3 linked regions of the Homo sapiens genome follow. The protein of the gene in region 1 interacts with the protein of each later gene in a pairwise test. Each region holds a gene or a part of one and is shown in the gene's direction. Other genes may lie near its edges. The genes, in order: C21orf58, KLHL20 and CCDC125.

Region 1 (3,652 bases):
CAAACCATACATAATAGTATACTTGACCACTGCATAAATGTTATAAACATTCCACATCAAGAGAAAGAGGAGAGGAAAAAAAGTTAACCAGTTCAACGAAAAGGAGAATCTGGCAAGGAAGCATCTCTGATGTGGGCAGAGCCTGCAGCAGCAGATGTGGAGGGCTTCTCACAAGTGACAGCAAGACTGTCTGTAAAACGGCCACTTTGACCTGGTGGTGTTCTGCTCTTTTCATGGCCATAGAGTACTCTGGTAAGGACTGATAGTAAGAGTGTCTTGTTTATGTCTTTATCTGGGTGGGTGCAGTATCTACTGATGAGGAAACATCTGGTCCCTGTTGGCCTGATACCCTTTTTTTTTTTTTTTTTTTTTTTTTGAGGTGGAGTTACACTCTTGTTGCCCAGGATGGAGTGCAGTAGTGGTGCCACCTTGGCTCACTGCAACTTCCGCCTGCCTGGCCCTATCTTATAATTTAAAAGGCATCAGGGGCCAGGTGCTATGGCTCACACCTCTAATCCTAGCACTTTGGGAGGCCAAGACGGCAGATCACTTGAGGTCAGGAGTTCGAGACCAGTCTGGCCAACATGGTGAAACCCCATCTCTACCAAAAATACAAAGATTAACTGGGCGTGGTGGCGTGCACCTGTACTCCCAGCTACTCGGGAGGCTGAGGCAGGAGAATCACTTGAACCCGGGAGGCGGAGGTTGCAGTGAGCTGAGATGGCTCCACCTCTGCACTCCAGCCTGGGCAACGAGCAAAACTCCATCTCAAAAAAAAATACATAAGATGGAGTCCTTTTCTCAGATGAGGTCACTTATATCAAGGGTGCTCTATACAGTTGCTTAACTAAATTAACCTGGTTTTTGTTCTGTGCACACTCAGAGCTGTTTAAATGTCTCCCAAGACTGTCACTGTTAATGACTGTGGACAAGAGCCAGGTTCTTTTATTATCTTGTTTATTTATTTTTTTATTTTTTTTATTTTTTTTCCAGACGGAGGTTTTGCTCTTGTTGCCCAGGCTGGAGTGCTGTGGCGCAATCTTGGGTCACTGCAAACTCTGCCTTCCGATTTCAAGCAATTCTCCTGCCTCAGCCTCCCGAGTAGCTGGGATTACAGGCGCCTACCACGACGCCTGGCTAATTTTTTGTATTTTTAGTAGAGACGGGGTTTCACCATGTTGGCCAGGTTGTCTCGACCTCCTGACCTCGTGATCTGCCTGCCTCAGCCTCCCTAAGTGCTGGGATTACAGGCATGAGCCACCGCACCTGGCCCTTTTTTATTATTTTTTATAGAGATGGGGTCTTGTTGTGTTGTGCCGGCTGGTCTCCAACTCGTGGACTCAAGTGATCCTTCTGCCTTGGCCTCCCAAAGCACTGAGATTACAGGCGTGAGCCAACGCCCAATGGCACTGGGATCTTAAACATGGGGCCAGAGTCTGCTCATGTCCAGCAGCACCAGCGAGGACCCCTGACTGCCATCTGGGAATGTGTGGCACCAGGCAGGTCATGTGACCCTAGCCCACACCCTCCACAGATCTGGAGGGAGGGTAAGGCCTGGTTTCATGCTGACTTCATTTCTGGTTGGATGGCCTCCAGGGTAAGGTGAGTTGAACTCTACGTCAGGAGTAATCCAGCCCCTCCAGGGCCAGCAGGAGTAAGGTGCGCCCCTCCAAGGATCTCCATGAGCTGCCTCTGTGAGCCTGACCTCCTACGGGCTAGCCAGCCTTCACCCAATCACTCACTGGTCCAGCTTCAGGGTCCCTACATGGATGTGGGTTGGAAGACAGGACAGGCACACAACCATAGATACTGATGGACATGGGCCATTTACAGAACTGAGGGCAAGAGAGCAATTTTGGCCACTGAGGCAAGTTCCTGGGTTAGCTGCACCGAGGAGGGTGCTGACCTCTGCCCCTCGGGTCCACAGGTCTGGGCCCCTGCTGCTGACATCCCCCACATGTCAGTCTGCCTGCTAGTGGGATTGACTAACTCATCAACGTGGAGTTTAATGCCCAACCAAGTGCAGACCACGCTCCTGTTTTGCGTCACCCTCTGCGAAGCTTCCTGCAAACTTGACTCCCTGCCCAGTGCCCCCAGCCCCAAGGTGGGACATATCCCCTGGGCACCCCCTCTGGTCCTGCTAAAGCCCAGCCCCTCTGCAGGTCACAACCCCTCCTCTGTCCTACCCCTTCTGCTGCCTGCAATTTCCTGAACTCCTTGGTAGGCAGTCTCCTCACCCTGTCCTCCCAGTGTCTCCCCACCCTGTCTTCCCTGCTTGCTCTGAGGGTCCCTAGGAGGGAGGTATTAACACCCTGGAGGCAGTACACAGGTGGGGCGCCCTCCCCTGACACACAGGTTCTTCTGGACTGGGTCCTGAGGCTGGTGGTGCATAGGGGGTCACGACTGCCCTTCCCCCAGGTCTGAGGGTTCTGCCCCTCTGCCTCAGCTGCTGCCCACTTTTTTGCCTTCCCATGAAGCCCAGCTGGCCACACCTGGGGATGAGTGTTTACCGGTAGCCTGAGGACGCACAGTGGAAACCTGGCAACCTGGGGCCTCCCTGTGTCTGGCAGCCTGGCAACTGTCACGCGGCGCCCAGCGCTGGCTTCTGGGGCACTGCAGTCCAGGGAGGGTGTGGCTATCTTCCCACAGGGCTCTTCTCTTCCCTCAGGCTGGTCTCCAGGAGGTAAGGCCCGCCCTGCAGGCAACACCGGTGCTTGGGCTCCTGCTGAGCAGTTCTTTCCTGCGAGTAACAGAACCAGGGAGGGAGGTGGGCTGTGGCCTCCCCTGCCCCTACAGTCGTCTCCTGCAGCTCCCACCATGCTGGACTCATCAGCAGCAGAGCAAGTGACCCGACTGACGCTGAAGCTCTTGGGACAGGTGAGGCAGAGCCCGGGATGCTCCTGTTTTTAACAACTCGCAGGCTGTGGCGTTGGAGGGACTCTTCGAGACAGCCCTGCAGGTGCAGAATGCAGGGCCCCAAGGGCTAGGCCTGGGGCTGGCAGCCCAGCGGACCCATCCTCAGACTTAGTCTTCACATTCTCTGAGGGTCTGGGTGGCCCATGACCGACCTGCCTGTCCTCGCAGGCCACTGAGCACAGGGTCTGGGGAGCCTCGGTGCCTGGGGGCACCTCTGCACCCCCTGCCTGCATTGTTCCCTCTCCTGCTGCCTGAGGGACCTGCTGCCCACCTTTCGCCAGCCCTGCATCCTGGCCCACAGGCCGCCATGAGAGGGACTCACCCCTGGACACACCCAGCAGGTAGCTGCTCAGCTCAGGGTTCAGGTGGGGGGTGATCTAGGCATGCACTGGCTGGGAAGCCTGGAGGCCTCACCAGTGAGGTGTCTCCCAGGGTTGCTCTTCAGAAATCTGCCTGAAGGGACCACTCAGAGCATCCGCCCCTAGACTTGTGGATGGAACACATGAATTTGCTAGAGGTCAGGCTTACAGAGGCAGCTCAGGGAGATCCTCGGAGGGGCTTGACTCCCGCCTGTTGGCCCTGGAGAGGCTGGGTTACTCCTGACGTACCATTCTTTTCACTCAGAAAGCCTCTTAGTCATTCCTGGAGCACACAGGGCCTTTGCGTGGAGCCACCGTCTCTGTCACGGTCTCTCTTCCTCACAGAAGCTGGAGCAAGAACGGCAGAACGTGGAAGG
Region 2 (3,652 bases), on another chromosome or scaffold:
AGCTTATAGATGAGAGCTCATGCCTTTAATAGTGTTTATTGGCTGGGTGCAGTGGTACAAGCCCATAATCCCAGCACTTGGGAGGATAAGGCAGGCAGATCACTTGAGCTCAGGTGTTTGAGACCAGCCTGGGCAGCGTGGTGATTCCCCGTTTCTACAAAAAAAAAAATACAAAAATTTGTTGGGCATGGTGGCATGCACTTGTAGTTGCAGCTACTCTGGAGGCTGAGGTAGGCACATCACTTGAGCCCAGGAGATTGAGGCTGCAGTGACCTACGATCATGCCACTGTACTCCAGCCTAGGCAACAGAGTAAGACCTATCTCAAAATTAATTAATTAAAATAATGGTGTTTATTTTCTCATAGGTGCTGCAGCATGTTCGTTTGCCTTTGCTTAGTCCCAAGTTCCTGGTCGGCACAGTAGGCTCTGATCCCCTCATCAAAAGTGATGAAGAATGCAGGTATGAGTGACCCTGGATGGGAAAAATCAACAACTAAGCATTCCTATTTTTTCCTAATTTCCTTATTTGTATTGCTTCCTAAATATTGTATTTTGCAGAGCTGAAACCAGGGCTTTAATTTAACAAGGTTTTCTTCTGGGCTAGAGTCAAGAGGAGGAAAAGAAGAAGAGAGAACTGAACTTCCAGTGTTTCATTCCATTAGGTTTTTATGTGTGGTGCTTACTGGTGTAGAAGTGGCAATAAAAAGGTAGATTTCCAAGATTTTAATGCAGGCTTGAATTTAAAGAGTCAATTCTCTGCTAATATTTTTTTTTTCCTTGAGATAATTAAATAATGCTGTTGACTCTGTCAATGAACATTTTTTCCTTCCATCACATATGTCTGGTTGGGGAATAGAATCAGCCTTGCTTTCTAAATTGTGGACAGAGTTGAAGATCTGCCACTTTCTAAAACAGCTGTAGAAAGATTTTCACTAAAACTAGGTGAAGCAGTTTCCAGAGGTTTTTTGACGAAAGAAACTCTTAACTACTTTTTCAAAGGGGGGGAAAAAAGCAACCTATTTTACTAGGCTGTCTTTAAAGTATATACAAAATGTAATAAATTACATTCCCAATTTGACAGATTGTAAGATTTAGGTTCAAATCTGAAATCATCTGGGATTGTTAACCATTTTTCCCCAGCATGTCCCAAATATAAAAGTGAAAGAGAAAATCCATACTCAGAACTTTGTAAACTACACTGACCTTTGAACCTCCCTTGGTGATTAAAGACATTTAGAATGATCCCTGATTCTAGAATGGTGGTAGGACATGTAGATTCACTTGCATTTCTTCTATAAACTAAAGCCTGTTCTTTTAACAGGAGAGGCTGGAGGGGATTTTAGATGTTTCTATTTTATTTTATTGTATCTTTTTTATATTAATCATTCTTCATTTTTCAGTTTACCATAGACTAGAGTTAAACTAGATTTTTGTATTCTATATTTAAAACACAGACAGGCCGGGCGCAGTGGCTCACGCCTGTAATCCCAGCACTTTGGGAGGCCGAGGTGGGTGTATCACCTGAGGTCAGGAGTTCGAGACCAGCCTCAACATGGAGAAACTGCATCTGTACTAAAAATACAAAAATTAGCTGGACATGGTGGTGCATGCCTGTAATCCCAGCTATTCAGGAGGCTGAGGCAGGAGAATTGCTTGAACCTGGGAGGTGGAGGTTGCGGTGAGCCAAGATCACACCATTGCTCTCCAGCCTGGGCAACAAAAGTGAAACTCAGTCTCAAAAAAAAAAAAAAAAAACACACAGACAAATGGCAATTAATTCTCCTAAATATTTGCAGTAGCAAAAAGGAAAACCATGTACATTATACATGCTGAAATCTGAAGAAATAATACATAGATGCCCTCCTCCATTAAAAGTAAATCAGATTGTATTGTACTGATTCTGATGCAGAAAGTAAAAGTACTTATGAAGTCATATTTAAAAGAAGACCCTTCCTGATATCCTAACTTCTTTTTGCTGCAGTTTCTTCCTCTATAAAGTGAGGATGATAATAGTGCCTATTCCATAAGGCTGTTGTGAAGATTAAATGAGTTTATATCTATTAAGCACTTAAAACCAGGACTAGCACATAGCTGTAAGTGTTGTTACTACCATTAATTTTGTGTTGGTTTGCTCAATATTATAGCTCTATAGTATTATTTGTAGGAACCCTCAAATGACCTAACAAGCTATTAGGAGATCAAAGTCTTTGTCTTTTTTTTTTTTTTTTTTGAGACGGAGTCTCGCTCTGTTGCCAGGCTGGAGTGCAGTGGTGCAATCTCGACTCACTGCAACCTCTGCCTCCCAAGTTCAACCGATTCTCCTGCTTCAGCCTCCTGAGTAGCTGGGACTACAGGCGCGTACCACCACACCCAGCTACTTTTTGTATTTTTAGTAGAGACGGGGTTTCACCATATTGGCCAGGATGGTCTCAATCTCTTGACCTCATGATCCACCGCCCCTCAGCCTCCCAAAGTGCTGGGATTACAGGCGTGAGCCACTGCAAAGTCATTACATGTGTAATTACTAGACTCTTCTCTTAAAGTGTCTTAACAAGACAGGAAATATGTCTCGGTAGACTTGTTGAGAGTAAACCATTCATATGTTACCAGATAGCAAATTTGTGGCAGTACAGTGTTTCTTTTCAGCAATCCGATTTTTGACCCAGTTTTATTACTTTAATCTAGCAAATAACTATTGCCCTGGCTGATGTGCTACCTTGCTAATATCTTGCAGAATCTAATAAAATTTATTAAAAAGTAGTAACTCTGCAGTGTGGTAATCAAATTGTAATTTTTACTTTTCTATAAGTTATTGTTGGCTGTAAGCATGTTGAGCTTTAGGCTAAATTTGCAGTGAGACATGAGTCATGATGGAAATACCAATCAATTCACAACTCAGTTTGACTGGCATTATTGGTTTCATGTTTGTGCCAATTTTAATATTGGCTGGCATTCATGATTTGGTTTGATTTATGCTTGCTTCCCTTTGCCAACCTATATATTCCTAAACTACATTGGGACTTAACTAACAATGTAATTTAGATATTTGGAATAAAGGCAGAATTTTTTCTACAGAGACTTGGTAGATGAGGCTAAAAACTACCTCCTATTGCCGCAAGAACGACCACTAATGCAAGGACCAAGGACGAGACCACGGAAACCTATCCGATGTGGGGAAGTACTCTTTGCAGGTTTGGATCTTAATATACTGTTAGTAAATTGAGTATTTTCCCAGGTGAGAAACTGTCATTTGAAAAATCCTTTGGACAATTATGATATTTACTGTCATAAGACACAAATAATAAGTCAGCATATAGCTTGACTCATAACCCATGATTCCACACTGATATACTCCAAAAGAGTGCTCTATTCTTTTTTCTCATTCAACACCTTTAATATCTATTTTTATATAAATCCAAAAATGTTGGCTGGTCACAGTGGCTCATGCCTATACAGCTTTCTGGAGGCCAGGCGTTTGAGACCAGCCTGGGCAATATAGGGAGGCCCCATCTTTACAAAAAATAAGAAAAACAATTGGCTGAGTGTGGTAGTGCATGTCTGTAGTCCCAGCTACTTGGGAGGCTGAGACAGGAGGATGGCTTGAGCCTAGGAGGTCAAGGCTGCAGTGAGCTGTGATTGCACCACTGTACT
Region 3 (3,652 bases), on another chromosome or scaffold:
AGCTGGGCTCGGTGGCTCATGCCTGTAATCCCAGCACTTTGGGAGGCCGAGACAGGTGGATCATCTGAGGTCAGGAGTCCGAGACCAGCCTGGCTAACATGGTGAAATCCCATCTCTACTAAAAATACAAAAATTAGCTGGGTGTGGTGGCAGGCACCTGTAATCCCAGCTACTCAGGAGGCTGAGGTGGGAGAATCACTTGACCCAGGAGGCAGAGGTTGCAGTGAGCCGTGATCACGCCATTGCACTCCAGCCTTGGTGACAAGAGCAAAATTCCGTCTCAAAAAAAAAAAAAAAAAAAAAGACTTGAATCCTGGCTGGGCATGGTGGCTCACACCTGTAATCTCAGCACTTTGGGAGGCCGAGGCAGAAGGATTGCTTGAGCCCAGGAGTTTGAGACCAGCCTGGGCAATATAAGGAGACCTCGTCTCTACAAAAAATACAAAAATTAGCTTCTACAAGAACAAAAAAATTAGCCAGGTGTGGTGGCACATGCCTGTAGTCCCAGCTACTCGGGAGGCTGAGATGGGAGGGTCACTTGAGCCCAGAGGTCGAGGCTGCAGTGAGCTGTCACTGCACTCCAGCCTGGTCAACAGACTGAGACTCTGTCCATATAAAAATAAATACTTTAATCCTAAACGTTGACACATCTATTTTAGACAGCATATATTGATATGTTGGTTCAAGTCGTCTTTTAAAAGTCAAAGGTAGGCCGGGCGTGGTGGCTCACGCCTCTAATCCCAGCACTTTGGGAGGCCGAGGCCAGCGGATCATGAGGTCAGGAGATTGAGACCATCCTGCTTAACACGGTGAAACTCCATCTCTACTAAAAATACAAAAAATTAGCCGGGCGTGGTGGCGGACACCTGTAGTCCCAGCTACTCAGGAGGCTGAGGCAGGAGAATGGTGTGAACCCAGGAGGCGGAGCTGGCAGTGAGGTGAGATGGCGCCACTGCACTCCAGCCTGGGTGACAAAGCGAGACTCCATCTCAAAAAAAAAAAAAAGTCAAACGTATAAAGTATGAAGGAACCTCTGTGTTTATCTATTCAAGATTACCATATAGTACAGAATCAGCTGTAGATATTCTTAGATTTTGTAGTACTGTTAAAATACAATATTATAAAAATGGTATATGGAAAAATACTCTAATCCTACTAATTTATTTTTATCTTTTGTTTTTCTTCTAATCTTTGTTCTAGTACAGACAACTTTGAATTCTGCTTTTTATGTTTTACACTTGTATATGTGAGCATTTATCATGTTGCTGCCTAGTCTATACTACATAGTATTTTTATTTTTATTTTTATTTTATTTTTATTTTTTGAGATGGGGTTTCACTCTTGTTGCCCAGGCTGGAGATTATTCTTAAACTATGTTAAATACACTATAACTCTAATACTTATTTAATTAATTTTGTTTAATTACATAGTATTTTATAAAGTTGTTAAACCAAGATTTAACTATTTCTTTATTGTTCAACATATTTTATTATTTTCTAATTTTGTCCAATTAGAAATTAAATGGTAGAGTAAATTGCTGAATGCATTGAACATAAAACAGGCATAAATACAGACTCATTTTAATTTAAAAAATTAAAACAAAAAAAGTCCAGGCTTGGTGGCTCACGCCTATAATCCCAGCACTTTGGCAGACAGAGGTGAGCGGATGGCCTGAGGTCAGGAGTTTGAGACTAACCTGGCCAACATGGTGAAACCTTGTCTCTACTAAAATACAAAAATTAGCTGGGCATGGTGGCAGGTGCCTATAATGCCAGTTACCTGGGAGGCTGAGGCACAAGAATTGCTACAACCTGGGAGGCGGAGGTTGCAGTGAGCTGAGATTGCGCCATTGCACTCCAGCCCTCAATAAAACCAAAAGGACACTTTTATTCCTAGCAAAACCTAATAGTCTGGAGAACATGTTCCATGGAGCACACTTTGGAAAATGCTGATACAGAAACAATTTTAGAGCTCTGAAGAACCAAAAATCTAGTCCCCTAAATTGACAATTGAAGAAAATAGTATTCAAATTCAATAAACATTGATTTGGCTACCATAGTTGATTTCAAATATATCAGTGGTGCCCAAAAATGTCCCAATAAAGTAGTTATGCTTAAACCCCTGTTAAGAAATAAAACAGGCTCTAAGAAGTTAAATGACTTACCCAAGATCAAAAAGTGGCAAGTGGTGAAGTGAGATTTGAACCCAGACCTCTCGAGTCAGTGCCTTCTCCGTTAACACATCCTGCTGCTTCCCTGGTCATCAACCCTGAATACATTAAACTGGTTGGATAGTTTAGTGACTTCAAATATTTTCACTTTCTTGGAAGTAATGTGTTTCAAAAGTGAAGTTTAATTTGTATGGTATTTCATGTTACCTTACTATCAGCATATAAAAAGTGGGAGAATAGGCCAGGCGGGGTGGCTCATGCCTGTAATCCCAGCACTTTGGGAGACCGAGGCAGGCAGATCATGAGGTCAGGAGATCGAGACCATCCTGGCTAACGCGGTGAAACCCCATCTCTACTAAAAATACAAAAAATTAGCCGGGCGTGGTGGCGGGCACCTGTAGTCCCAACCGCTCAGGAGGCTGAGGCAGGAGACTGGCATGAACCCGGGAGGCGGAGCTTGCAGTGAGCCGAGATCTCGCCAGGGCACTCCAGCCTGGGCGACAGAGCAAGACGCTGTCTCAAAAAAAAAAAAAAAAAAGTGGGAGAATATACAGTCAGCAGTCCCTGAAGTTACATTTTATTTTATTTATTTTTAGAGACAGGGTCTTGCTCTGTTGACCAGACTAGAGTGCAGTGGCGTGATCACAGCTCACTGCAGCCTTGACTTCCCACCTCAGGCTCCCGTGTAGCTTGGGACTACAGGTGTGCACCACCATGCCCAGCAGTTTTCTTTTTTTCCTTTTTTTGTAGACATGAGGTCTCACTGTGTTGCCCAGGCTGGTCTGAACTACTAGGCTCAAGCAGTCCTCCTTCTTTGGCCTCACAAAGTTCAGGGATTACAGACATGAGCCACCATTCCCAGCCTGAAGTTAAGTTTAAGAAACAGTAGGCAGGGATAAAAAACAAACAAAACAACAACAAAACCTCATTATATTCAACTCTGAATAGCAGGAAGGCGTACCCATGATGCCTGAATTTATGTGGTGCATTGAAAAATATTCTTAGCTAACTCTACAATTGCTTACTCTTTCCTTTTACAGCTTTTCCCCCTTATATTGACCAATTCCATTTTCTTCTCTGCTGCCTGCCTAATCCTGACCACACCCTTCTTAACACAGGCCAGAGGTTGCCCTTAACAAGCAGGAGTCTACTGCACTAGAGGTAAAACACAGCCTCTCAAGGGATTATTCTTTGATTCAATAAATATCTTCTTATCTACCTTGACAAAATAGGTAAATCTCCTTTTTAAGGAAATAATCTTGTAAAAGAACCAAGATGATTTTATAAAAATCTGGGAAAAAGTGGATCCAGAATCTGTTAGATGTTGCTCAAACTAGATATTTTAGACTTTTACTTTAAGTTCTATTTGAAGTCATAAATAATAGAAACTTGGTATACTCTGATGTTAATTTCATTGAAATTCTCCAAATAATACAAAACAGTGGCTAAGAGTGTTGGCTCTGACATCAGATATCTGGATTA

What was found.
Region 2: the proteins of C21orf58 (region 1) and KLHL20 interact in a two-hybrid assay, tested with the Homo sapiens proteins (one large-scale study listed by BioGRID).
Region 3: the proteins of C21orf58 (region 1) and CCDC125 interact in a two-hybrid assay, tested with the Homo sapiens proteins (one large-scale study listed by BioGRID).

What each region holds. Positions count from the first base shown.
Region 1 is NC_000021.9:46,317,237-46,320,888, reverse strand, and holds part of C21orf58 (uncharacterized protein C21orf58), read left to right. Parts: intron 1-63; exon of another isoform or gene 64-233; coding exon of another isoform or gene 234-252; intron 253-1,927; exon of another isoform or gene 1,928-2,104; intron 2,105-2,668; coding exon 2,669-2,877; intron 2,878-3,084; exon of another isoform or gene 3,085-3,223; coding exon of another isoform or gene 3,224-3,257; intron 3,258-3,540; coding exon of another isoform or gene 3,541-3,620; coding exon 3,621-3,652.
Region 2 is NC_000001.11:173,752,847-173,756,498, forward strand, and holds part of KLHL20 (kelch-like protein 20), read left to right. Parts: intron 1-366; coding exon 367-461; intron 462-3,076; coding exon 3,077-3,192; intron 3,193-3,652. UniProt on the Homo sapiens protein: Substrate-specific adapter of a BCR (BTB-CUL3-RBX1) E3 ubiquitin-protein ligase complex involved in interferon response and anterograde Golgi to endosome transport.
Region 3 is NC_000005.10:69,326,151-69,329,802, reverse strand, and holds part of CCDC125 (coiled-coil domain-containing protein 125), read left to right. Parts: intron 1-3,652. UniProt on the Homo sapiens protein: May be involved in the regulation of cell migration.